Linked DNA regions of Homo sapiens: all the other regions are linked to region 3. The links come from fine-mapping of genetic effects on gene expression. A gene starts in region 3. Each other region holds a variant in brackets. All regions are shown on one strand. Distances are from middle to middle.

Region 1 (8,175 bases), 38 kb before region 3:
GGTGGGCGGATCACCTGAGGTCAGGAGTTCCAGACCAGCCTGGCCAACACGGTAAAACCTCGTCTCTACTAAAAATACAAAAATTAGCCAGGCGTGGTGGCAGGCGCCTGTAATCCCAGTTACTCGGGAAGCTGAGGCAGGAGAATCGCTTGAACCCAGGAGGTGAAGTTTGCAGTGAGCTGAGATTGTGCCACTGCAGTCCAACCTGGGAGACAGAGTGAGACTCAGTCTCAAAAAATAAAAAATAAAAAATAATTTTTTAAAAAGATAAAATAGAAATCGTAGATGAATTCTTGGAACTGGGATTAATCAGAATATGGCAGATTAGCCTCCAAGATGGAATTGCTTTATTCTCATTCAAGGTTTCCCTCATTCTCCACTCTCCCCATGCTGGTCACCTTGCTGCTTGTTCCTCAAACACATATGAAATGCGTTTCTGTCTTGGCAGTCATCCTGCTACCTGTAATGTCAGCACTGCTTTCTGTTGTCCCTTCAGTCAGGTCACTGTTCAAATAGCTCTCTAGACAGGCTCTTCCTTATCATTCTACTTAAAATAGCCCCCAATCACTCTGTGTCCCTTTAGCCTGCTTCCTCTTCCTGCTATTTCATACTACCTGAAAAAATACTTGAACTTCCTAGAACATAAGCTCATAAAAGCAAGAACTGTGCTCCACCTCTCCTCCCCTCTACCCCAGCACTCAGAAGAGCAACAGGGTCAGCATCCAGTGAGTGTTCATGAATCAAGTCACTGCTTGGCAGAATTCAGCACTGGGACCACAGCCTCGCCTATCTTCAACTCTTTCTCCTTCTGCTTTTCCTCCTCCCACTCTAGTAGCCACTCTTCTGGGGACTTGTGCCTTAAATGATTAGTCCTTACCGACCTATTTTCTGTCCACTTTATCTGTTTTTGAGAGAGGGTCTCACTCTGTTGCCCAGGCTGGAGTGCAGTGGCATGAATATGGGTCACTGCAGCCTCCACCTCCTGGGCTCAAGTGATCTTCCTGCCTCAGCCTGCCATGCCACGTAACTGGGGCCACAGGCATGTGCCACCATGTCCAGCTAATTTCTTGATTTTTTTTTTGGTAGAAATGGGTCTCGCTTTATTGCCCAGTCTGGTCTTGAACTCCTACACTCAAGCAGTCCTCTCAACTTGGCCTCCCAAAGTGCTGGGATTACAGGCATGAGATACTGTACCTGGTCTTATTTTTTCTTTTCTTAAGATACAGGGTCTCACCATCTGGCCCAGGCTGGACTCAAACTGCTGAGCTCAAGCAATTCCCCCACCTCAGCCTCCGAAGTAGCTAGGACTAAAGGCATGAAACCACCATGCTTGGCTTGTCCAATTTCATTCTACACACTTTCTCGGTATTTAAACAGCTGCTGTTGCTCTTCATTCTGTAGCTCTACATCAGATTCATGCTCTAGTCCTGTATATCCAAATGATGACTAGAGGCTGCCGGCTCTGCTCTTTCAAAGCCACAATGAGTGTAGCCCGTCTACAAAACTCTCCCTTTTCCAATCCAGCTTTCCCTCCTGCATCACCTATCTCTCTACATCTGGAACCATCGGCAGCTGCCTTCATAAGGCACCTCGGTCTGGCATTTGGAAAACCACCCTGTCTTGCCAGAGCTGCTTGGTCTTGGGTAGCAAAAGCTGTATGCAATCTAAATCAAGCTTTCAATCATGAGAAATCACATTCCTTCTTTTCCCCTTGTAATATACTCGTGTGTTTTTTTTTTTCCTTTCTCAATAAGCAAATTGTACCACCATCTTATTCTGAGATGCTCCTTTTTAAAAGCTGTAGATCACATTAATGGGAGTGTTTACTGCTGGAAATATTTTCCATGTGCAATGATCTGTAACCCTCCTTTTCTTTTCTTTTTTTTTTGAGACCGAGTCTCGCTCTGTTGCCCAGGCTGGAGTGCAGTGGCACAATCTCTGCTCACTGCAAGCTTTGCCTCCTGAGTTCATGCCATTCTCCTGCCTCAGCCTCCCAAGTAGCTGGGACTACAGGTGCCTGCCACCATGCCCAGCTAATTTTTTTTTTTTTTTTGAGATGGAGTCTCGCTTGATCGCCCAGGCTGGAGTGCAGTGCTGCAATCTCAGCTCATTGCAAGCTCCGCCTCCTGGGTTCACGCCATTCTCCTGCCTCAGCCTCCCGAATAGCTGGGACTATAGGTGCCTGCCACCACACCTGGCTAATTTTTTTTTTTTGTATTTTTAGTAGAGACGGGGTTTCACCATGTTAGCCAGGATGGTCTTGATCTCCTGACCTCGTGATCTGCCTGCCTCGGCCTCCCAATGTGCTGGGATTACAGGTGTGAGCCACCACGCCCGGCCATGCCCAGCTAATTTTTTGTATTTTTTAGTAGAGATGGGGTTTCATGATGTTAGCCAGGATGGTCTCGATCTCCTGACCTGGTGATCAGTCCGCCTAGGCCTCCCAAAGTGCTAGGATTACAGGTGTGAGCCACTGCGCCCAGATCTGTAACCCTCTTATCTCAACTAGCTGACATTATTAGTTCACATCCAGTTCAATTTATAAATTAAGAGAGGTGCCATGGGCCGGGCACGGTGGCTCACGCCTGTAATCCCAGCACTTTGGGAGGCTGAGGCAGGTGGATCACGAGGTCAGGAGTTCGAGACCATCCTGGCTAACATGGTGAAACCACGTCTCTACTAAAAATACAAAACAATTAGCCAGGTGTGGTGGCAGGCACCTGTAGTCCCAGCTACCTGAGAGGCTGAGGCAGGAGAATGGTGTGAATCTGGGAGGCAGAGCTTGCAGTGAGCAGATATCATGCCACTGCACTCCAGCTGGGGCGACAGAGCAAAACATCGTCCAAAAAAAATAAAAATAAAAATGAAAAAGAGGTGCCATATGTACAAAAATCAATGCATATTTATGAACTTTTTTTCAAATATATTTTCACACATCTTATCTAAATACATAATACAGAAGCCTGTGTGACTTGGGCAATGTGGCCAGGAGGGCCTGAGACTAACACACCCACCTCGGCAAAAGGACATAAAATATGTCTTATGGTCAGAAAAATCAACATTTTGTGTATTTACTTAGTTTACGAAAAGTACTGAAAATGCTATTATTAGCTGAATTTGTGATTTCCTTTTGAAATTCTGAGTTATCCTTATTTTTCCCATTTTGTTTTTACACCAAGGAGACTGCAGTCAAATAAAACAGATACTACACGCACTCGTCGGGGCAGCCGTACTGCAGAAGCACGTTGATGCACTCCTGGCTGGAGGCCTGCCGGGCGTAGGTCAGCGCTGTGTTCCCGTGGGCATCTCGGGCCATGACGTCCACCCCGTACCAGATCAGGAGCTGCGCCAGGACCACATTCCCCTTGCGGCAGGCCAGATGGAGCGCCGTGCAGCCGTCTCCCTCCCCACAGGTCTCGTTCACCTCCTCACGGGAGCCATGTGCCAGCAGCAGGATGGCTGTCCGCAGGTCCTCATCAGCGGTGGCCCGCAGCAGGTGCTGGCCCAGGGACAGCTCAGTGCAGGGTAGTGGGGCCAGAAAGAGCTTATGCTCATATTTGGAACGGATCCACCGTTCCTTCTCTTCCCTCGTTGACTCTATTGAGGGTTTCGTCTGCCCCTGGCTGCTCCCTTCCCAGATGCTGTTGGCTAGGTCATTGCCAATAGATGACATAACCTTCCTGAGCTCAACTGGCCAGTCATCCAGCTCCAGAGATCGCACACGGGAAAGGCGGGTGCCAAGACTGCGGTGGATTCCTGAACATTCAATACACATGAGGACTCCCAAGTTCAAACTGGCCCACTTAGGATTCTGGGTCTCACAGTCCACGCAGTGGGAGTTCCCACGCATGTTTTGGATCGACTGCAGGGCCATGGCCTCACTCTGGCTGGTCAGCTGGGACTTGCTTTTACTGCTCTCGCATGACTGCAGGCTGGCCAGGATCTGGCTCTGGATGGCTTGGACCCAGGCATCCCGCTCCTCATACGTCGTGGCTTTAAAGTGGCACGTTTGGCCAGTGACGGACACAATCATAAACTTTTCTTCTTCTTCCTCAGCAGTGCTGGACAGGCCATCATCTTTTAAGTTGTTGGTGCTTTTCTTCTTTAGGTGTTTCTTTTTATTGGCATGAGGGGAGGGGGGCAGGTTGAGCTTGGGGCTGGTGGTGCTGGAGATACTGGGGCTGAAGCATATGGAGTCACCCAGCCCGATGTCTGAATTGGCTGACATATGCAGAGCTTCCATGTCCTTGGATAGGCCATTGCTTTTAGAGCTGGAGATGGGTGCGCAGGCCGATGTGGCTAGGGATGGCCACTTTCCTGGGACTTTGATGGTAGATGTCCGAAGGTCAATCTCTTTTTTATGAATATTCTTCATATAATCACCTAAGCTTGAATAATAGGTGAGCACGCCATTGGAACACAGGGTGACATATTTCTTTTTCCA[T/C]GTCTTCAGCCATTTCCCACTTCGCTTTAAGAGCATGCCCTGTTTAATGGGGATGGCTCTGCCGCTCCCGATGGTGTCAGCGTGACTCTCCAGGGCTTTCCTCCCTTTGTCTGGGTCACTCCCTTTCTCAGATGTAAACAGGTTGGACCAGCCCATGGACTGCTTGCAAATGGGCGTGGGTGTGTTGGCAGTGGGAGGAACACTGAAATAAAGGTCCTCCTGGCTGGTGCTGGGAGTCAATGGAATGGAGGAGGAATAGTTATTTAAACTCCCACCTCCATTTCTTTTCTTCGTAATGTGCACGGTGGAAAACTGTGTGGAACAGAAGAAGAATGGCTTCAAAAATTGGGTAGTGGCTTGCAGGGTCCTATAGACAGCTCACAATTACCTTTTAAAAAGATACATTTTCTGGGCCAGGCATGGTGGCTCACACCTGTAATCCCAGCACTTTGGGAGGCCAAGGTGGGTGGATCACGAGGTCAGGAGTTCAAGACCATCCTGGCCAACATGGTGAAACCCTGTCTTTACTAAAAAAAAAAAAAAAGAAAGAAAAAAGAAAAAAAAATTAGCTGGGCATGGTGGCACATGCCTGTAATTCCAGTTACTCGGGAGGCTGAGGCAGGAGAATTGCTTGAACAGGGACCTGGGAGGCAGAGCCTGCAGTGAGCCAAGATCGCACGATTGCACTCCAGCCTGGGCTACAGAAAGAGAGTCCATCAAAAAAAAAAAAAAAAAAAAGATACATTTTCTGTTGTTTGGATAGTATATTTACTCATACTAGCTCACTAACTAAACAGAGCCGCAGATCAGTTCTTACTCCAGCACATTCTTTTTACAACACTTAAGATGACTAAATGCAACATGAAATGGGGAAGATTTAAAAAAAGATGGCTTTGACTTCAGCATGAAACAGATACAAGTGTACGATGAAAATACAACCTCAATAAAAGTGCCACTTACCGCAAATGAGTATAACTGTTCATCAAGTATGGTCAAAGATCTATCTGCATCTCTAAAAAATAAGAAAGCGCATTACTTCAAAAACTGTTAATATCTTAGTATAATATTTGTTTAGTAAAATACTGCCTCCTGTGTGCTTTGGTGTTTACTTTACCAAAGCAGTTTTTACGAATTCTTCTCCTGGATCCTGACTTGCAGAGGGTTTCCTGACTTCTTCTTTCTCAGCACATCATGGCCTGTACCGTGAAGTCTTTTATATGATAACCAGTCAGAAATGCCCATGAGTATTGACTCTCCCTAACAGGCCATGGCAATAAGCCAAATATATTTTCACTCTTCTAACCACACATTGAAACACAAGAATGTTCTACAAAGCAGTAGTAGTAAACTTTAATAAATGTAAATGTGATTCAGATTTCCTAGCTTCCTTTCTCTTTAGTTCTCTGTAGTATACTCTCATGATGTATTTATGTATTTTCTGTTGTTTGAATGACAAACTCATCTGCCTTTTTAAGAGGCCAGTCTTTGATGAACTTTAAACTTTGTAAAACTAATGCATTGTGTCTGTGTATAAACCAGTGGTTCTCCAAATGTGCTCTGTGGACCTCTCAGGATCCTGAAGACCCCTTCCAGAAGGCCTAAGAGCTCATAACTGTTCTTTTTTTTAAAAAAAAAAAACAAGTTTTATTCTTGTTGCCCAGACTGGAGTGCAATGGTGTGATCTTGGCTCACAGCAACCTTCACCTCCCAGGTTCAAGTGATTCTCCTACCCCAGCCTCCCAAGTAGCAGGGATTACAGGCACCTGCCACCACTCCTGGCTAATTTTTGTATTTTTAGTAGAGATGTGGTTTCACCATGTTGGCCAGGCTGGTCTTGAACTCCTAACCTCAGGTGATCCGCTTGCCTCGGCCTCCCAAAGTGCTGGGATTACAGGCCTGAGCCACTGTGCCTGGCCAACACTGTTCTGAATCATACTAATTAAACCTGAGAAAGCTGATGAAAAATTTTAAAAATTTGTGAAAGTAATACAAAGTCATTGCCTGCTTTTTTATTGACACTTGCCATGATTGTATAAAAGCAAAAGTGGGTACAATGGCTGGTTTCTCAGCATAAATCAAGGCAGTGGTACCAATTACATTAGTAGTCTTTCTATTCTTCACTGTCCCCTACAGGTAAAAAACATAGCCTGAATTTCTTAAGAATGTCTTTGATGAAGCAGTAAAAATTAATGTTGTTAAATCTTGACATGTCTCTAATATTCTGAATAAGTGGAAAGTTAACGAGAAGCGCTTTTTTTTTTGTTTTTAAAGAATCCATGATTTAACTGTGAACTGAAAAATCACTTTTTTCACAGAACATCATTTTTATTTAAAAGTACAACTGGGCCAGTGCAGTGGCTCATGCCTGTAAAATCCCAGCACTTTGAGAGGCCAAAGCAGGCAGATGGCTTGAGCTCCTTCAGGAGTTCGAGACCAGCCTAGGCAACATAACGAAACCCTGTCTCTATCAAACATATAAGAAAATTAGCCTGGTGTGGTGCCACACACCGGTGGTCCCAGCTACACAGGAGCCTGAGGTGAGAGGATTGCTTGAGCTGAGATCATGCCAATGCACTCCAGCCAAGTGACAGAGTGAAACTTGGTCTAAAAAACCAGTTCAACTATCATTCTCAAAAATAAATGAAGTGAGAGGTTGTCACTTCAAGGGAAATACGTATTTGTTCCCAATGATAAAATTTAAGCTTTCCTGTGGACTTTGAAAAACTTCTTCCTTCTACTGTAGGCTTGGCAGCTTTTCAATACTTAAAGGCGTGTTAAACTAAGATTGGTGGTTAAACTAAAAGTGATTTTTGACACAATAAAACATAAACCAATATATTCCAAGTAACTAATGCATGATATTATAAATGCAAGTATGGAGCAAAAGATCCATTTACTGTGCAAGAAAGATCAATGAGTACTGATGGAATAAATTTATTAATATGTAAAATGCCACCGTAACTAATTTAAGAAACCACCACTTGTGAAGTTTTGATTTAGTGTTAACAAATACCCACAACTGTCTGAAAACTTTAAAAATACACCTTCTACCAACTACATATTTGCATGAGGTTAGGTCATCTTATTGCTTCTTTTTTTCTTTTTTTGAGACACAGTCTCTCTCTGTCACCCAGGCTGCGGTGCAATGGCGAGATCTCGGCTCACTGCAACCTCCACCTCCCAGGCTCAAGCGATTCTCCTGCCTCAGCCTCCCAAGTAACTGGGACTACAGGCGTGCACCACCATGCCCAGCCATTTTTTGTACTTTCAGTAGAGGCTGGTTTTACCATGTTGGTCGGGCTGGTCTCAAACTCCTGACCTCAAGTGATCCACCCACCTCAGCCTCCCAAAATGCTGGGATTACAGGTGTGAACCACTGCGCCCCACCAGCTTATTGCTTTTTTTGTTTGTTTGTTTAGACAGAGTCTTGCTCTGTCACCCAGGCTGCAGTGCAATGGCACGATCTCAGCTCTCTGCAACCTCCGCCTCCCAAGTTCAAGTGGTTCTCCTAACTCAGCCTCCAGAATAGGTGGGACTACAGGTGCGTGTCACCACGCCCAGCTAAGTTTTTGTATTTTTAGTAGAGACGGGGTTTCGCCGTGTTAGCCAGGATGGTCTCGATCTCCTGACCTTGTGATCCACCCGCCTCAGCCTCCCAAAGTGCTGGGATTACAGGCATGAGCCACCGTGCCCAGCCTCTTATTGCTTCTTTAAAGCAAATTGCAAATAAA
Region 2 (8,175 bases), 32 kb after region 3:
AACTTCCAAGGGCTCATGGAAGCCAACGTCAGCCTGGACCTGGGGAAGCTGCAGACCATGCTGAGCAGGAAAGGGAAGAAGCAGCAGAAAGACCTGGAAGCTCCCCGGAAGAGGGACAAGAAGGAAGCGGAGCCTTTGGTGGACATACGGGTCACAGGGCCTGTGCCAGGTGCCTTGGGCGCGGCGCTCTGGGAGGCAGGTGAGTTCCTGGGCTGGGGAGACTGGACGAGCCTAGGAGGCCAGGGCCGGCTGCCGGCAGCTCTTCTGCCTCCAAGAGGGCCAGGAAGAAAGAGAACAGGATGGCCATCCGTCACCCCTACTAGGTCCACCTTCCCCTTGGCCCACCTGCTTCTCAGGGGTGTGGGTCTCTCAAGCTACCTGGCTTATGGGGAGACAGAAGTCACAAGAACCACCTGCTAGTGCCAGAGCCCGTGAGCGGCATAGCCTGGAGGCCACAGGCACAATAGTGCCGCCTACTGCTCCTGCTACAGAGAGGGCATCGCCTCCTGCCCTGCCAGGGCAGCCTTCAAGTCCCCCCATCTCATCTCTTCACCTCACCCCCTTCATTCCCATGTGCGTTTAAGCCACTGTATCTAGGAAGAATGTGGATAGGGACTGTGGCCACTTGCAGCCCCACTTAGTTCTGTTTCATTTTCCATGATTTTAGTTTTTTTTTTGTTTTTTTTTTCTTTTTCTTTTCTTTTTTTTTTTTTTTTTAAGATGGGTCTCACTTTGTCGTCCAGGCTTGAGTACAGTGGTGGGATCATGGCTCACTGCAGCCTAGACCTCTCCAGGCTCAGCTGATCCTCCCACTTCAGCCTCCAGAGTAGCTAGGACTTACAGGCATGTGTCACCATGCCTAGCTAATTTTTGTACTTTTTGTAGAGACAGGGTCTTGCTATGGTGCCCAGGCTGGTCTCAAATTCCTGGGATCAAGTAATCTGCCCACCTCAGCCTCCTAAAGTGTTAGGATTACAGGTGTGAGCCATGTGCCCAGCCTTGATTTCAGTTTCTTGCATCAACCACGATCAGAAAATAGGTGAGTACAGTACAATAAGATTTTGAGAGAGGGAGACACCACATTCATATAACTTTTATTACAGTATACTGTTATAATTGCTTTATATTTTATTATTATTGTCAATCTCTTACTGTGCCTAATTTACAAGTTAAACTTTGGCATAGGTATGTACATAGAGGAAAATAAATAGTATATATAGGGTTTGGTACTGTCTGAGATTTCAGGCACCTGCTAAGGTCTTGGAACACACCTCAGTGGACTGTACAGGGAAAGCCGTGGGCCCTGAAAGGAGCTCATTCCCTCTGCAAATACAGTTAACCTGTCTCATCGCTCTGTGCTAGTCCCCTTCCTGGGCTTTACCACAATGGCCCATCCCAACAGGTCAATGACACACTCATCAGCACTTCCATCTTACCTGAAACTGAGGCGCAAACACAAGTTTCCTGCTTGCACAGCTAGTGAGCAGCAGAGGAGCGCTGTCTTTAGGGTGCCGGTTCTTCACCTCCAGAAGGCCCTCCATGGCTGGTCCCTGCAGGGCCCTGGGCCTGGGAGCTGGCTTTGAGGCTGAAGGCATGTGCAACCAAGCTTCCCATCCCCTCCCTGAGTGTGGTCCCGGGAGGGGGACAACTAGGCTCTGTGTCTCAAGTGACTCTCTCTGCCAGAGGCTGGCCTTGGAGCTGTGGCCTCTCCCCACCCAGACACAGGGCTAAGTACAAGGCCACCATCTTGGCCATGTGCAGCCTGGCGTGTGGCAAGTCCAAGGCCTTGTTGAAGGTCCCGTCCCAGGCAGCCCCTGCCCCAGCTGACCCTCCCTATGGCCCAAGAGGCAATGTGGAGCAGTGGGAAGCACCCAGGCTCTGGCATCACTTGTCTGTTTCTTCCTCAGTAAAATGGCAGAATCCCTACCCATGTCAAAGTTTTGTTATGAAGACTGCTGCGTTTACCAAATACCTAGCACGAGGCTTACCTCATGTAGGAACGCAGTCAACGTTTTCCCATTTCCCCAGCATTTTCAGGGTTCAGGTTGTGTCCACCGACACTGACACTTCTCTCTTGTTTCCTCTCGTGCGTGGTGCAAGGCTTCAATATGCTGATGACTTTCAGAATTTGCCCCACGGTTTGGAAATGTGTTTACCACGACGATATTTATTTCAAAAAAATGTTGTTCTTAAAAACAAATTTCCAGGCCGGGCGCAGTGGCTCATGCCTATAATCCCAGCAGTTTGGGAGGCCGAGGCGGGTGGATCACTTGAGGTCAGGAGTTCAAGACCAGCCTGGCCAACATGGTGAAACCCCATCTCTACTAAAAATACAAAATTAGCCGGGTGTGGTGGCGGGCGCCTAATCCCAGCTACTCGGGAGGCTGAGACAGGAGAATCACTTGAACCCGGGAGGCAGAGGCTGCAGTGAGCCGAGATTGCGCCACTGCACTCCAGCCTGGGCAAGAAGAGCGAAACTGTCAAAAAAAAAAAAAAAATTAGCCCGGTGTGGTGGCAGGCACCTGTAATCCCAACTACCTGGAAGGCTGAGGCAGGAGAATCGCTTGAACCTGGGAGGCAGAGGTTGCTGTGAGCCAAGATAGCTCCATTGCACTCCAGCCTGGGCGGCAGAGTAGGACTCTGTCTCAAACACACACACACACACACACACACACAAACACACACACACACACACACACACACACACACCCCAAATTTCCCTTTATTTGTTTGTAGGAAGGCTGTAGGGCTTGAATGTGTGCCCTGCAGGGAAGCACACTCTGAGTTTGCACAGCCCTTCCCGCATCTTAGGGCCTGTCAGGCGCAAGGCTGGGTTGGGGTGGGGGTCTCTCTCTGCGGCGGAACTCCCTGCGCAGGCGCCCGGACGGAACGGCCGGAACGAGGGCCTAGCACCGGTAGAGGGCGCTGCGGGCCGGCCTTCCTTCGGCTAGGCAAGAGAACCACCTGCAGGGTGTTAGGGGAATTGCAGAGGCAGCCGCCGGCCTCTGACTTGGGCACAATCTTTTTTTTTTTTTTTTTTTTTTTTTTTTTTTTGAGACGGAGTCTCGCCCTTTCGCTCAGGGTGGAGTGCAATGGCACGATCTCGGCTCACTGCAACCTCCGCCTTCCGGGTTCAAACGATTCTCCTGCCTCAGCCTCCCGAGTAGCTAGGATTACAGGCGCCTGCCACCATGCCCAGCTAATTTTTGTAGTTTTAGTAGAGACGGGATTTCACCATGTTGGCCAGGCTGGTCTCTATCTCCTGACCTCGTGATCCGCCCACCTCGGCCTTCCAAAGTGCTGGGATTACAGGCGTGAGCCATTGCGCCCGGCATTTTTTTTTTTTTTTTTTTTTGACGGAGTTTCACTCTCGTTGCCCAGGCTGGAGTGCAACGGCGTGATCTCGGCTCACGGCAACCTCCGCCTCCCGGGTGCAAGCGATTCTCATGCCTCAGCCTCCCAAGTAGCTGGGATTACAGGTATGCCCCACCACGCCTGGCTAATTTTGTATTTTTAGTAGAGATGGGATTTCTCCATGTTGGTCACGCTGGTCTCGAATTCCCGACTTCAGGTGATCCGCCCGCCTTGGCCTCCCAAAGTGCTGGGATTACAGGCGTGAGCCACTGCGCCCGGCTGATTTGACACAATCTGAACACAAATGAGAAAGCTATTCTCAGCTGTCTAATTCTCAGAAAATCTTCCAGAACTAGAGAAAAGCAACATTTTTTTATTCACAAAGGCTTGCTGGATTGGGAGTCAAAGAGCTGAGGCTTGAGTTCCGGGACCCAAGTCAGTAATTGCTCAGCAAACTGCTCCTCTGAAGGCTTTGGTTTTATCACCTAAGAAATGGGGACCTTGTTTTAAACCCCTACAGAGGGAGCAAGTTGAGGAACCCCATGGTGGACATGACCTCGTTGGTGCCAAGGCCAGTGTCACAGCCAGGACCCAAGTAGGACTTACCTTTCCTGTGCCATCTCATGACCCTGTCCCCAGCTGCCCAACCATGCTGTCCAGGCAGCAGGACTGGCTTCTTCCTGGCTGTTTGTACACCCTCCACACATGGCAGCTTCCTCTGCTTCTGTGCCCGTGCATGGGCCTGGCACCAGTGTTCTGTCAGTGTTCCTGTCCTAAGGCTGGCCAAAGTGGTCCCTGCAGAGAACCAGAAGTCTAGAGATTCAAGGTCTGTTCCCAGGAGGCTTGGTAATTTACTAGTTGTGTGGTCTGGAGCAATAAGCTTTTTCTTTCTGGGCCTCAATTTACCCATATGTAAGATGACCAGCTTGGCCAGTAACAGTGGCTCACACCTGTAATCCCAGCACTTTGCGGGGTTGAGGTGGGAGGACCGCTTGAGCTCAGGAGTTTGAGACCAGCCTGGGCAACAGAGCAAGACTCTGTCTCTACAAAAAATAAAAAATTAGCCAGGCATGATGGCGTATGCCTGTAGACCCAGCTACTCAGGTGGCTGAGGTGGGAGGATTGCTTGAGCCCAGGAAGTTGAGGCTGCAGTGAGCCATGATCGCCAATGCACTCCAGTCTGGGCAACAAGAGACCCTTTATCAACTAAAAAAAAGA[AGAC/C]CAGCTTGAAGGGGCTTCTCTTCCCTGGCTCCACCTGCTCTTTCCTTCTTTCTCCAAGGTTCTGTCTTCAACATCCAGGAGGATCCAGCCTTCATGGCTCTGCAGATACCTTCCCAGTGTTAGCATTATTATTACCTTGAGGATGGATATTTTCTCCCTCTCCCCTGAGTATCTCAAGATTCCTAGCAAGTGGTGGTCGTCTGGGAGTCAGAGACCCGTGTTCCTGTCCCAGCCTGCCATTTACAAACCATGTAGCCTTGGGCAGCCGGTGAAGGATTCAACCTGTTTTGTCAATCAGGGATACTGTCTCTCAAGGAAGTTGGAAGGAAAAGGGATCAAACGAGAAAGTGCTTTGTGGCTGGGCATGGTGGCTCACCTGCAAGCCCAACATTTTGGGAAGCTGAGGCTGGAGGATCACTTGAGCCCAGGAGCTCCAGATCAGCCTGGGCAACATAGTAAGACTCCATCTCTACGTTAAAAAAAAAAAAGGGCTGCAGTGAGTCATGACCACTGCTGCACTCCAGCCTGGGAGACAGAGTGAGTCCCTGTCTAAAAAAAAAATGAAAGTATTTTGTTAAAATGTACACCAGCTCAGACAACAGACTTGCATTTTCCTTCCTCTCTATTAGTGAAAAACAGAATTGGCCATCTAGCTTTTCTCCTGCAATAACACTGCTGTTGGGAATATCTAGGTTATCTAGAAATAGTGACCTATTTCCATTGCTAATAAGGTGAGGACGGTAGGTCTCAGGGTTTAATTTCCCACCCAATGGTGTAAGGGATGAATCACTAAGCACTGTCCTGTTATGTTTCAGGATCCCCTGTGGCCTTCTATGCCAGCTTTTCAGAAGGGACGGCTGCCCTGCAGACAGTGAAGTTCAACACCACATACATCAACATTGGCAGCAGCTACTTCCCTGAACATGGCTACTTCCGAGCCCCTGAGCGTGGTGTCTACCTGTTTGCAGTGAGCGTTGAATTTGGCCCAGGGCCAGGCACCGGGCAGCTGGTGTTTGGAGGTCACCATCGGACTCCAGTCTGTACCACTGGGCAGGGGAGTGGAAGCACAGCAACGGTCTTTGCCATGGCTGAGCTGCAGAAGGGTGAGCGAGTATGGTTTGAGTTAACCCAGGGATCAATAACAAAGAGAAGCCTGTCGGGCACTGCATTTGGGGGCTTCCTGATGTTTAAGACCTGAACCCCAGCCCCAATCTGATCAGACATCATGGACTCGCCCAGCTCTCCTCGGCCTGGGGCTCTGGCCAAGGATGGGCTGGAGGTCATTCAGTTGGTCTGTCTCTTCCCTGGAAACCTTCTGCAAAGATGGTGTGGTGTACGTGGCTTCCCTGTAACCACATGGGGCTTGGCCATTTCTCCATGATGAGAAGGACTGGAATGCTTCTCCGGGCAGGACATGGTCCTAGGAAGCCTGAACCTTGGCTTGGCATGCCTTCTCAGACAGCACGGCCTGGGCTCCAACTCTTCACCACACCCTGTATTCTACAACTTCTTTGGTGTTTTGCTCCTCCTGTGGTTGGAAACTTCTGTACAACACTTTAAACTTTTCTCTTGCTTCCTCTTCTCTTCTCCCTTATCGTATGATAGAAAGACATTCTTCCCCAGGAGGAATGTTTAAAATGGAGGCAACATTTTGGCCAACATTGGAAAGCACTAGAGGGCAATGGGATTAAACCAACCTGCTTGGTCTCTATTAGTCAGTAATGAAGACGACAGCCTGGCCAACCAAGGGAAAGGAAATTAGTATCTTTAGTTTCAGTCATTCCTTGTAGGATATGGTTTAGCTGTGCCCCCACCTAAAATATCATCTTGAATTGTAATCCCTATAATCCCCACATCAAGGGAGAGATCAGGTGGAGGTAATTGGATCTTGGGGGCGGTTCCCCCATGCTGTTCTTGTGATAGTTCTCACGAGATCTGATGATTTTATAAGTTTGATAGTTCCTCCTGTGTTCATTCTCCTTCCTGCCACCTTGTGAAGATGCCTTGGTTCCTCTTCACTGTCTGCCATGATTGTAAGTTTCCTGAGGCCTCCCCAGCCATGTGGAACAGTGAGTCAATTAAACCTCTTTCCTTTATAAATTATCCAGTCTTGGGCAATTCTTGATAGCAGTGTGAAAATGGACTAATACACTTGTGTTTATCTGTAATTTAAATTTCATGTCTTTTTCTCCTTGCCTTACATAGGGTAAAGACCAAGAAATGCCAAACGTGAACTAAAATATGTAGGGCCTTCAACTTTTTTACTTCCTCCAGTATCTTAGGACCATCGTAATTCTTGTTAGCATCTCTAACCAGGAGGCAGCTGAGGGAGGAGGGAAAGAAGACTGTAAAAATCCCCCTCACTAATGATCAACTTTGGAATAAAGTGATGCCCTTCAAATCTCTGCCTCATTTACTTCTGGAGGGCAAAAATAATTGGTAGAGTAGGTAAAAAAAACATGGGACAACGTGAAACTATGTGGGTAAATGTGACTGATTATTCCAGGCCCTGTTATGTAGAATGATTTCCGTTTATTCTATATAAAACACTTGGAAGTTTCCACACTAGGCAAAGATACTAATACTGGACTAGACAGTACAGCTCATAGCTGCAATTATTCCTGTAATATACCAGCATATGGTTTTCAAAAAAGTTCAGATCCTATAGCAAACTGGCCTGAGAAAACAGTCATCTAGCTATCAGAAACAAGGTTTTTTTTGGTATTAAGTACTCAAAATTTGTTGAATATAGTCTTCTCTATAAGAAAATCAGATTGCTGAGGCAGGAGAATCGGTTGAACCCGGGAGGCGGAGGTTGCAGTGAGCTGAGATGGTGACACTGCACCCCAGCCTGGGAGACAGAGCGAGACTCTGTCTCAAAAAAAAAAAAAAAAAAAAATCAGACTGGACTTCGTAGTGAGTTGCTTGTTGGCGTTAACAAGGTTATCAGCACTTCTCATTGTTTGCTAGGAGTTATTACTTCACTTGTTCCTCAGAATTTATTTAGCACTAAGTTTTGTGCACTCAATGTGCTAAAACATCGGTGTTAAAAGGAACAGTATGCCAGGCCACACTGCTCATGTTTGACCTGGGGTAAATCACAACCTCTCTTGAACTTTGTCTTTAGTGTGAGGTGGTTGATCTTACAGCTCTAATTAGGTATTCTGGCATTCTTTTTTGAGACGGAGTCTTGCTCTGTCACCCACGCTGGAGTGCAGTGGCGCAATCTCAGCTCACTGCAACCTCTGCCTCCCAGGCTCAAGCAATTCTCCTGCCTCAGCCTCTCGAGTAACTGGGATTAGAGGCACCCACCACTATGCCCGCCTAATTTTTGTATTTTTAGTAGAGACAGGGTTTCACCATGTTGGCCAGGCTGGTCTTGAATTCCTGACCTCAAATGATCCTCCCACCTCAGCCTCCCAAAGTGCTGGGATTACAGGTGTGGGCCACCACGCCTGGCCTCTGGCATTTTATTATCTTAACCACAGGTTTAAGTATCACCCACCCCCGGTGCAGCTCTCAGTTACCAAGACCAATTCTGCCCCAAGGCATGAAGCAGACGGCCACGCCAGAACAAAGATTAGAAGCCCAGTAGCAGGT
Region 3 (8,175 bases):
GAATGGAATGCAACTCTACGTGTTTTCACAATGTAGAAATGGGACAAGTAACATTTTTTAAAAAGGCGGCGGAGGGAGAGAAGGGGAGAGGAGGTGAAAGTGGAAGAATCTGCACCCTGCCTCATGTGTAGTCTGATGGGGGTCAAAGCTGAGAACTCCAGCGGTAGACGTTTGGGAGATTACATACAAAGAAGCTCATCCTACGGACTGAAAATGGGGATGAAGAAGAAGAGGGAGGAAGGAACGCCATCCAGAGAAAATGGTTTAAGGGAACACCTCCACCTGAAAATGCAGTCATTTGTAAGTGGAACCACAATGTAATGTTAGTGACTGTGTGTTTGGCTAGATGGGGAACTGGAATTTGGAGAATTAGGAATTATGTGTGGCATTGCTAATGGAAGAATTGATCTCTGGAGGACTGACTGACACCCAATAGGTGTAGTGTGGCCACAATCCTTCCTCCTCAGCCAGTCTGGGCTGTACTTGCTCCATGAACCTGGTGGAGACAGGCCTGGGCAGTATAAGCTCCCAAGGGCTCCTCTGGTGAAGCTGTCCTCACAGGGTTAACAAGCATTCTACACAGAAATATAGTTATAATTAAGCATTAACAGTTATAATTAAAAATTAACAGTTATAATTAAGCATTAATGAGGCTGTGCTTTAACTAAATTCCTTCTATAGAACTTCCCGTGGCACTGTATACTGACCATCTGCATCCCCACTGTTCCCACAGTTCGGCTTTCTGATGTTAGAATCATAGGCTTTTGTTTAGGAATTCCTTAAAACGTTTTTTTCGTTTGTTTTTTCAGTTTTTTTTTTTCCGAGACAGAGTCTCACTCTGTCGCCCAGGCTGGAGTGCAGCGGCACCATCTTGGCTCAGCAACCTCCACCTCCCAGGTTCAAGCAATTCTCCTGCCTCAGCCTCCCAAGTAACTGGGATTACAGGCGCACGCCACCAAACCCGACTAATTTTTGTATTTTTAGTAGAGACAGGGTTTCACTATGTGGCCAGGCTGGTCTCGAACTCCTAACGTCAGATGATCCGCCCACCTTGGCCTTCAGAGTACTGGGAAAACAGGAATGAGCCACCGCATCCAGCCTAAAATGTTTTTCAGATTCCAAATTCCAGTGAAACAAGTGACCCCAACCAGTTTGAACAGCCCAGAAGAACATAATCAGCATGAGAATACAGTTTTTTCATCTCCCTGGCCCCATGACTTCACTCCGCACTCTTCAACAAATCAACAATCTCCACACTTTGGCCTGCTCTAAAACTCTTAAGAACCCTAACCCCAAACTTCTCGGAGAGAGATTTGAGGTTTTCTCCCATCTTGTCTGGCAGCCCTGCGACTAAACCTCTTTCTTCTGCTGCAACCCGGTGTTTCGGGTGTATGGACTTGCCCTGCCATCAGGCAAGGGACCTATTACAGAGACACTGGCTCTGTGCCCTCTGTGTCCCAGACATGGTTCAAAAGGCAAGTCCCACCTGGCCCTGCCCTCCAGGGCTCCTAGTGTCGGGGGAGCAGAGGCACACAGGAACAGGCAATTGCACAGCGCCACCGGAGCACCAGCTCCATGGGGCTGGGGCAATGTGGAAGGGGCTGCATTGCAGAGATGGTTCCATGGTAAACCTGAAAATGAGAACTCACTGTCATCCATCAGGAGAACAAAAGGATGGTCCTCCATGCAATCATTTAGCCAGTGCTGCCTGAGCACCGCAGAAGACACAGAGCATGCACTAAAAAGGGACTGGTTACAGCCCCATGAACCACCACTATGGAGAAGCACACATGAAGGCTCATTGTGACTCTAAAAAGGAGGTACAGGGGGTGTGAGAATGTGTCACCAGGGGCCTGATGCATATTGTGTGTGTGTGTGTGTGTGTGTGTGTGTGTCGGCACACCCAAGGCCGCTGAGACCTGACGTTTGGAAGAGCAATAGGCAAGGGTGATTTATGGAGAGTATGCCAGGCAGAAAATGCCGCAGGTGTGAAGATACCGAGGCAGCAGGAGCATGATGGGAAGGTCAAGGTGGCTGAGATGGAAGGGAGGGGGTGTTGTGGGAACAGGCTGGAGGTCTGGGAGGCTCTGCCCTCATCAGCAGGTGGGCTTTTCCTTAGACTTGTTCCTCAGACTTGTTCCTCCTGTGGTTCCAAGTGGCTGGTTCTAGGGTTCCTTTCCAGCCACAAGGTGTCCAGAGGAAGATGAAGGGCGGCTTTTTTTTTTTTTTCTGAGACAGGGTCTCACTCTGTTGCCCAGACTGAGTGCAGCGGTCCTCGACCTCCCGGTCTCAAGTCATTCTCCCGCCTCAGCCTCCCAAAGTGCTGGGATTACAGGCTGAGCCACCATGCCCCGCCTTCAAGACAAGAAAAGCCTTTTCTAGAAGACTCCTGGCCTCAGGCCTGATCTCTCTCCTTGGCCGCACCTGGGTCGCACTTAAGGCGATCACTCACAAGGAGAACAAGTGAAAAGTCCCTTGGGATTCATCCCTGAGTCATAGGGGAATGATGCACACCAGAAGGATGCTGGGCTCTGCCAGTCCAGCCCCACCAGCCTCCTGGAGTGGCCCTGAGGCCGGCTCTCCAGACCCTAGGACCTGCTCCTGGAGGCAGGGGCTCCTGGAAGCGCCCCTGACACTGCTCCGGGTGTCTCTTCAAGGACTTTCCCACATTCTACAAAGAAACCTTTTGGGGACAGTCAGCAACATGTAACCGATAGTGGAACCAGGGCAGCCCTGGGTTAAGGGTGGTAGACACGTGCCCCGCGAGGGAGATCTCAGACTGGAGAAGGGAACGGCCTCCTAGGCAGACCTGTACTGCAGCATCTGGACTGGCAGCCAGGTTGGGGACTTCGTCCCCTGCTGGGAGGCCGGGGAAGGCAGGGAGCGCGCCTTGAGTCCGCTGACTAAATCGCCTCAGAACTGGGAAGCACCGCGTAGTCGGTACCTTTCAACAGAAACGCAGAGGCCACTGGCGCGCAGGAGGAGGCGACTGCAGGTGGAGGTAGTACCGGGGTAAAGACATGGAGCGGGTGGACGGGAACCGCTAGGGGCCCGCTGGGGCGTGAGGGGCGCGGGGAGGAAAGGGCCGCAGCAGCCCACGCCCCGCGCCAGGGCCAGGCCTCATCCGGCGCTCAACCAGTGCCACGTTGAGTCACCTACTGGCAAGGCATACACCGTACCGGGGCCACACGCGTGGACACGTGCCGGGGGGGTGCTGGGAACACCAGTCCATCCGGAACCCACTAGACAAAACCTTCCAGGGCCGGAGGTTACCGGTTTGTCCCGAAAGGAAGTGGTGTGGAAGGGAGGGGTCTCCCGCACGCGAGCGCGCACGTGCATGCCCCCCCCACAACCGTGCTTCGTTCTCACGTGCACGGCCCCGTGCCCCGAAGCCCCTCCCCGGGGAGTGGCGGGGCGGGACCCCGCCGGGCGGCAGCGCCCCACTCAACAAAGCTTCCCGCGGGCCCTGCCCCATGACTCACCGCTGGGTGGGGCGGGCACGCAGGCAACCCGCGGGCCGAGACGGGGTAGTGAGGGCCGGAAGCCCGGCTCCCGACTCCGCTTCGTCCCCACAACCTCCGGCCGCCTGAAGTCCTGAGGGGCCGTGGCCCTGGGTCGTCTCCCCTGTTCCCAGCCTCCAGTCGCAGCTGGCGGAGAGAAGTTCCCGAGGCCCCCCCGACTTGCAAGGTCCCTTGCCCCGCCCAGAGCTGAGCCTTCCGAGGATCTGAGGACCGAGTCCAGCCCAGCTCCCAGGAGGGGCCGGGATCCTGGGGCAGGGAATAAGGGGCAGGGGCTGGCTCTAAAGTCGGGCGGGAGAGGGGCACTAACCGAGATGGGGGCTGAGCCTCCGGTCTGGGAGCTTCGGGAGGCGCGTGGCGGGATGGAAAACATTCCTGAGACCGTTGGATTGGATTTCCGAATTTGGGAGGCTAGGACTCCGGCTACGGTGGCTCTGCTCTTGGGATGAGAGGACTGGGCCCAGCTTGCGAGGAATCATGAAGTGGACACAGGGTGGGAACGTGAATTTTAATGAGGGGGCAGACCGAGGAGGTGGTGGCTGCCCGGAGATCAGGGCCAGGCTGTGCTAGATGGCGCCTGGAAGGGGGGTCACCCAAGTCTCCCTGCTGTCATTTCAGGAGGCCGACCCAAGTCTCCCTGCTGTCATTTCAGGAGGCCGAATTTTTTCCCAATCCCAGAGAAGGTGTCAGAGGCCTGGTTAGCAGTCTTGTCGATGGTTTCCTGGGTGGTCTTGGCCAGCTGGTCCATGGCTGGGGAAGGGCGGGAGAGAGGGCAGGTCAGGCAGGGCCCGGGAACCACAGTGCCTGTAGGCTTAGCCTGGCCTGGGTCTCCCGGGGGACCTGCTTGGGGCATTGTGGACAGAGGGCTCTGCAGAGGAGAGGATGTGCCTGGGCCCCAGCCGGGATGGGGCGGGGAGTGGGAGGTGTGCTGGGGTTGCCCGCCTCCCTCCAGCCCCACCAGACCTTTCTGCCCCGCCTCTGTGGCCTGGTCCACCACTTGCTGAGCTGCCGCTCCGGCCGCTGACACTGGAACAGAGAGATGTGGCTTTTAGCCCCTGTTGAGGCACCACCGACTACAGGTGCCCCACCATTGCCATGCCTCTGTGTCCTCCAGAGTATTCGGTGGTACAGGTCCAAGGGATGGATGCCATGGAGATAAAGTCCCTGGCCCAGGGCCCCCCAGCCCGAGGGGCAGGAGACCTTTCCATGCCTCTGGGATGTTTTTGTTTATTTCTAACTCTGAGCTCCTTCTCTGTGGGGGAGGAGCTTCCCTTTCCATCTCCAGGGCTACTGAGAAAATGTTGGACAGAGGAAGGAAGGCAGGGCAGGGCCAGGCTGCAGCTAGCATCTGGACTGTTGGCTAATGCTGGTGATGGCGCAGAAGACCCTTGCCCCCTTTTACAGCTTCTCCCCTAGAAGCCTGGCCCAGATGCCTGAATTCCCACCTTTCATGCACTTAGCCCTGGGGCTTGCAGTTTTGCCAGGTCCTTACTGCCTCCTCCCTCCTGTGGCCTGCCCGGAGGGGCACACAAGCAAAGCCAGTGCCTCTGTGGACAGGCAGCTTAAGACATTAGGAGACAAATGAAGGAAGGAGGCAAAACTTCCAAGGCCGGACTATCTCCTCTGGACCAGAGTTTCGGCCTGCTGGGAATGGAGTCACCAGCCCCGGGGGGGCTGACAGGTGGCTCCCGCCTACAGAGCTGTAACTCATCCCTGCTGCTGAACAGGAAAGGGCCTGCCTTACCCAGATCCCATCCTCCGGAAAGGGTTAGTCAGGCAAGTGTGCTGAGAGGCCCCTGGGAACCTCGTCTCGATTAACCCATCAGAAAGCAGCCCATCCTTTGCACCCAGCTCTCAGATGGAAAAGTGAAGCCCAGAAGGAAGGGACCTGACACGGAGGCTTCCTTGGTAGCATTTCAGTCTCAAGGGAAGAACTGTGGGCCTCCCCTGGAGCACTGGTGAAGTAAGGGGTTGGTTTGGATATTGTCTCCTGACTGGGATATGGGCAGGACTGACAGGGAGCTGGAGTCCTAACGAAGCCTGGGCTAGGTGCAGGAAGAACCAACCCAGTGGTCTCCTGACATCTCCCACGCCCCCACCGCAGCTGGGTCACCTCCAGAATACGGAGGAGAGAGCTGGAGGTGGAGGAACTAAGGACCTTCTTTGCCAGGTGGGGACTTAAAGGTAAGGCGACGATTACTTTTCGGCGATGGGGGTGGGATGGAAACAAAGCCCTTTGAGGTCTGGGGCAGCCTCTGGTGGCGCGCGCGGGTTTAAGTGGTGGCGGGCCGCGCCCGATCCCTGTCCTGGACCTTCACCCTCTCCTGAGGGCCTGGGCGGGCCGCCCAGCGCCAGCATGGCCTCCTTGGAGGGGCTCCCGCAGTGCCCGCAGCGCAGCTCCGGCTCCTCCGGAGCCTCTGTTCCGCTGCCTCCCTGCGGGCACCATCTGTCTGCTCGCCGGGGTGGGCGTTCTGCCTGCCCCCTGCGTCTCAGTGGAGGACCGAGCCTTCCGAGCCAAGCTGCCGGTCCAGGAACTTGCGGACCGCGCCGACCCGCTGCTTCTGCCTGCGCATCCACGCAGGTGCCCCTGCCTGAGCCCTAGGTCGCGCGCTATCCTCACCGGCTTCCTGGGCGGTCCCCTCCACCTGTTGCTTCAGGTCCTGCAAGCCCTTGCTTGCCATGGCTTCGGGGTATCTGTGGAGTCGTCAAGAGCAGCTGGAGCGACGTTGGATCCTGCCCAGAGTGGCGATGCCAAGCGCCAGCTCCGGTTTTTAAGGCGCCCCAGGGCTGGCCTGCCCCGCGTAGGGGAGAGGGCGCGGGGCGGTTCCCGTCATACAGGCTCCGGGGAGTGGCCGGGCCCTGCTCCAGAGTCCGCAGGGCAGGGAGCACATCCTGGCCTAAGACGGGCCGCGGTGGGAAAGGGGCAGACCGAACCAGGGACCGAAGAGGTGCCAGGACAGGGGTCCAGAGAGGAGCTGGAGGCAGGAGAAGGGCGCACACCACCTCCCAGCTCATCAGCCCCAGCCCTCCCTTTCTGATCCTGGGCGTGAGCGCTGGGTCAGCTCCAGGGCAGGAGCTCAGGGCTGGTGTTGACCTTAATGACAGCAGTGGTCTTTTACTGAGCATTTGTCTTGTGCCAGGTGCTGCCTAACGCTCTGCAGTCTCTTGTATAATCTTTACAACCACCTCCTGAAGTGGGTATTTTTGTTGATAGCATCAGTGTATAGGAGGAAACTGAGGCAGTGAGGTCGGTCTCACCCAAACGCATGTGGCAGGGACTTGGATCCTCGAATCTGCCTAGGTGCCTGTAAACCCTAGGGCTCTGGCATCATCGGAGCCCCCAGCCCCAAACAGCTGCAGGGGCACTGCTGACTGGCTCTCTGCCTGTAGCCAGAGACCCAGTGGATGCAGCCGGAGAGGGCCTGGTAAATCTTTCCCCTGAGAGGGCGAGATACAGGTGTGTGCACTTGCAGACCATGCAACCCCAAGGGGGAGAGGGCAGTGTGCCTGTGCAGCCCAGGCAAGGAGATTGCCGTCTGTCACCGAAGCCTTAGGAAGTTGGGCAGGAAGCATGGCTCAGGGAGGGCAGGAATAAGCTTGGGCCTCTCAGGTCACCTTTCCTGAGATGGGGCAGGCAAGGCGCTAGAGAGTATGACTTGTGGCTGTTAGGAGGGGACTTAGGGACCTGGGCCTGAGTGGAGAAGATCATCCTTGGGTGCAGCAAAACAGCTTGCAAGATACATTCCCCTGGCACACAAGGGGTGTAGGTCAGGCCCCACCCAGCTGGGTATACTCCCACTCCAGAGTAGGCCTTCAGGACCTGGAGGCCAGTGCACACCCACCCTGCCTTTCTGGGTCTCTCTACCGCTTCCTGTCCGGGGCTGTTTCTTGCACCTCTGCTGGTGTCTCCCCTATTCTGGAGCGCTGGGAAGCCCCTGCCACACAGGCTTGGTCTGCTGGCACATACCCTGCTTCTAGTGCTGCGGGGTCAGCCCCTAGAGGGAGTTGTTTGGAAGTGCACCTGTACACACACACACACACACACACACACACACACACACACACACACACACACGGTATGGATTAATGGAGATGAGGTCAACCCTGGGCAAAGGGAAGAGGCAGGTGATGAGATTAGGTGGAGGAAGGGGGAGGGAGCAGGTCTCAGGCAAAACAAAGCGGCAGCAACAGTCCTCCCAGCCCCCCGCCCCTCCTCTCCCAGAGCGAGGCCTTGCCCTGGGAGCGGCCATATGGATGCCTTGGGGACTCTGGGGAGCCCATCTCAGCCATGCCCTGCCTGGCTGGCCACAGCCCTGCCAGCCCTCCTGAAATCCCACCGGTAGTGCCCAATAGCCAGGCAGGCCTTCGAGTGTTCCAGTTTATCACAGGCTGGTGGTGCCACTGGGCTCCAGGCCCCATGGGCAATGAGCTGTGAGCTGGACAGGAAGGGAGCAGCCTCTGTGGGAAGAGACAGCCAGCCCCCAGCAGATGGTGGTAGAGAGAGCTCCACGTGGCCCTAGCGGCAGGCACTACAGTCAAACCTCTTGGGTTCAGATATTCTTAGAGCAAGCCCCTCACTTCTCTGAGCCTCAACATCCCCATCACATCACAGCGTCTCCCCAAAGTGTGTGTGTGAAGATTAAATTGGCTGAAGGGT

Which allele goes with the higher level. Positions count from the first base shown, and alleles are read on the strand shown. Sizes are in standard deviations (SD) of each study's normalised expression. Not every link is listed here.
For the expression in skeletal muscle of the gene that starts at base 3,504 in region 3, allele T in region 1 goes with a higher level than allele C (small effect, 0.21 SD a copy in GTEx).

What was found.
Region 1: its variant is fine-mapped to the expression of ADIRF-AS1 in skeletal muscle (GTEx, PIP 0.99).
Region 2: its variant is fine-mapped to the expression of ADIRF-AS1 in whole blood (TOPMed, PIP 0.94).

Annotation. Positions count from the first base shown.
Region 1 is chr10:87,004,936-87,013,110 of GRCh38, reverse strand. It overlaps AGAP11 (ArfGAP with GTPase domain, ankyrin repeat and PH domain 11), which reads right to left. Exons shown (of 11, transcript NR_171046.1): 10 at 5,405-5,456; 11 at 2,885-4,756. Among named protein-coding and RNA genes, the nearest start is that of FAM25A, 11 kb to the left of the region's middle. RefSeq lists a silencer at 613-813. The variant T/C (reference allele first, on the strand shown) is at 4,445.
Region 2 is chr10:86,934,341-86,942,515 of GRCh38, reverse strand. It overlaps MMRN2 (multimerin 2), which reads left to right. Exons shown (of 7, transcript NM_024756.3): 6 at 1-199; 7 at 5,391-6,976. The coding sequence ends at 5,773. Among named protein-coding and RNA genes, the nearest start is that of MMRN2, 19 kb to the left of the region's middle. RefSeq lists enhancers at 1,647-2,147, 2,577-2,626, 2,770-3,064. The variant AGAC/C (reference allele first, on the strand shown) is at 4,573.
Region 3 is chr10:86,966,569-86,974,743 of GRCh38, reverse strand. ADIRF-AS1 (ADIRF antisense RNA 1) reads left to right here and starts at 3,504. Exons shown (of 2, transcript NR_170185.1): 1 at 3,504-5,702. It overlaps ADIRF (adipogenesis regulatory factor), which reads right to left and starts at 6,262. Exons shown (of 3, transcript NM_006829.3): 1 at 6,139-6,262; 2 at 4,482-4,544; 3 at 3,829-4,268. The coding sequence starts at 6,199. The coding sequence ends at 4,162. LOC124902474 reads right to left here and starts at 3,339. Exons shown (of 3, transcript XM_047426123.1): 1 at 3,180-3,339; 2 at 1,487-1,631; 3 at 1-575. The coding sequence starts at 3,339. The coding sequence ends at 464. AGAP11 (ArfGAP with GTPase domain, ankyrin repeat and PH domain 11) reads right to left here and starts at 4,408. Exons shown (of 11, transcript NR_171046.1): 1 at 3,829-4,408. RefSeq lists silencers at 3,027-3,576, 5,158-5,452 and enhancers at 2,775-3,974, 3,811-4,562, 4,563-5,316, 6,823-7,575, 7,556-7,735 and 1 more.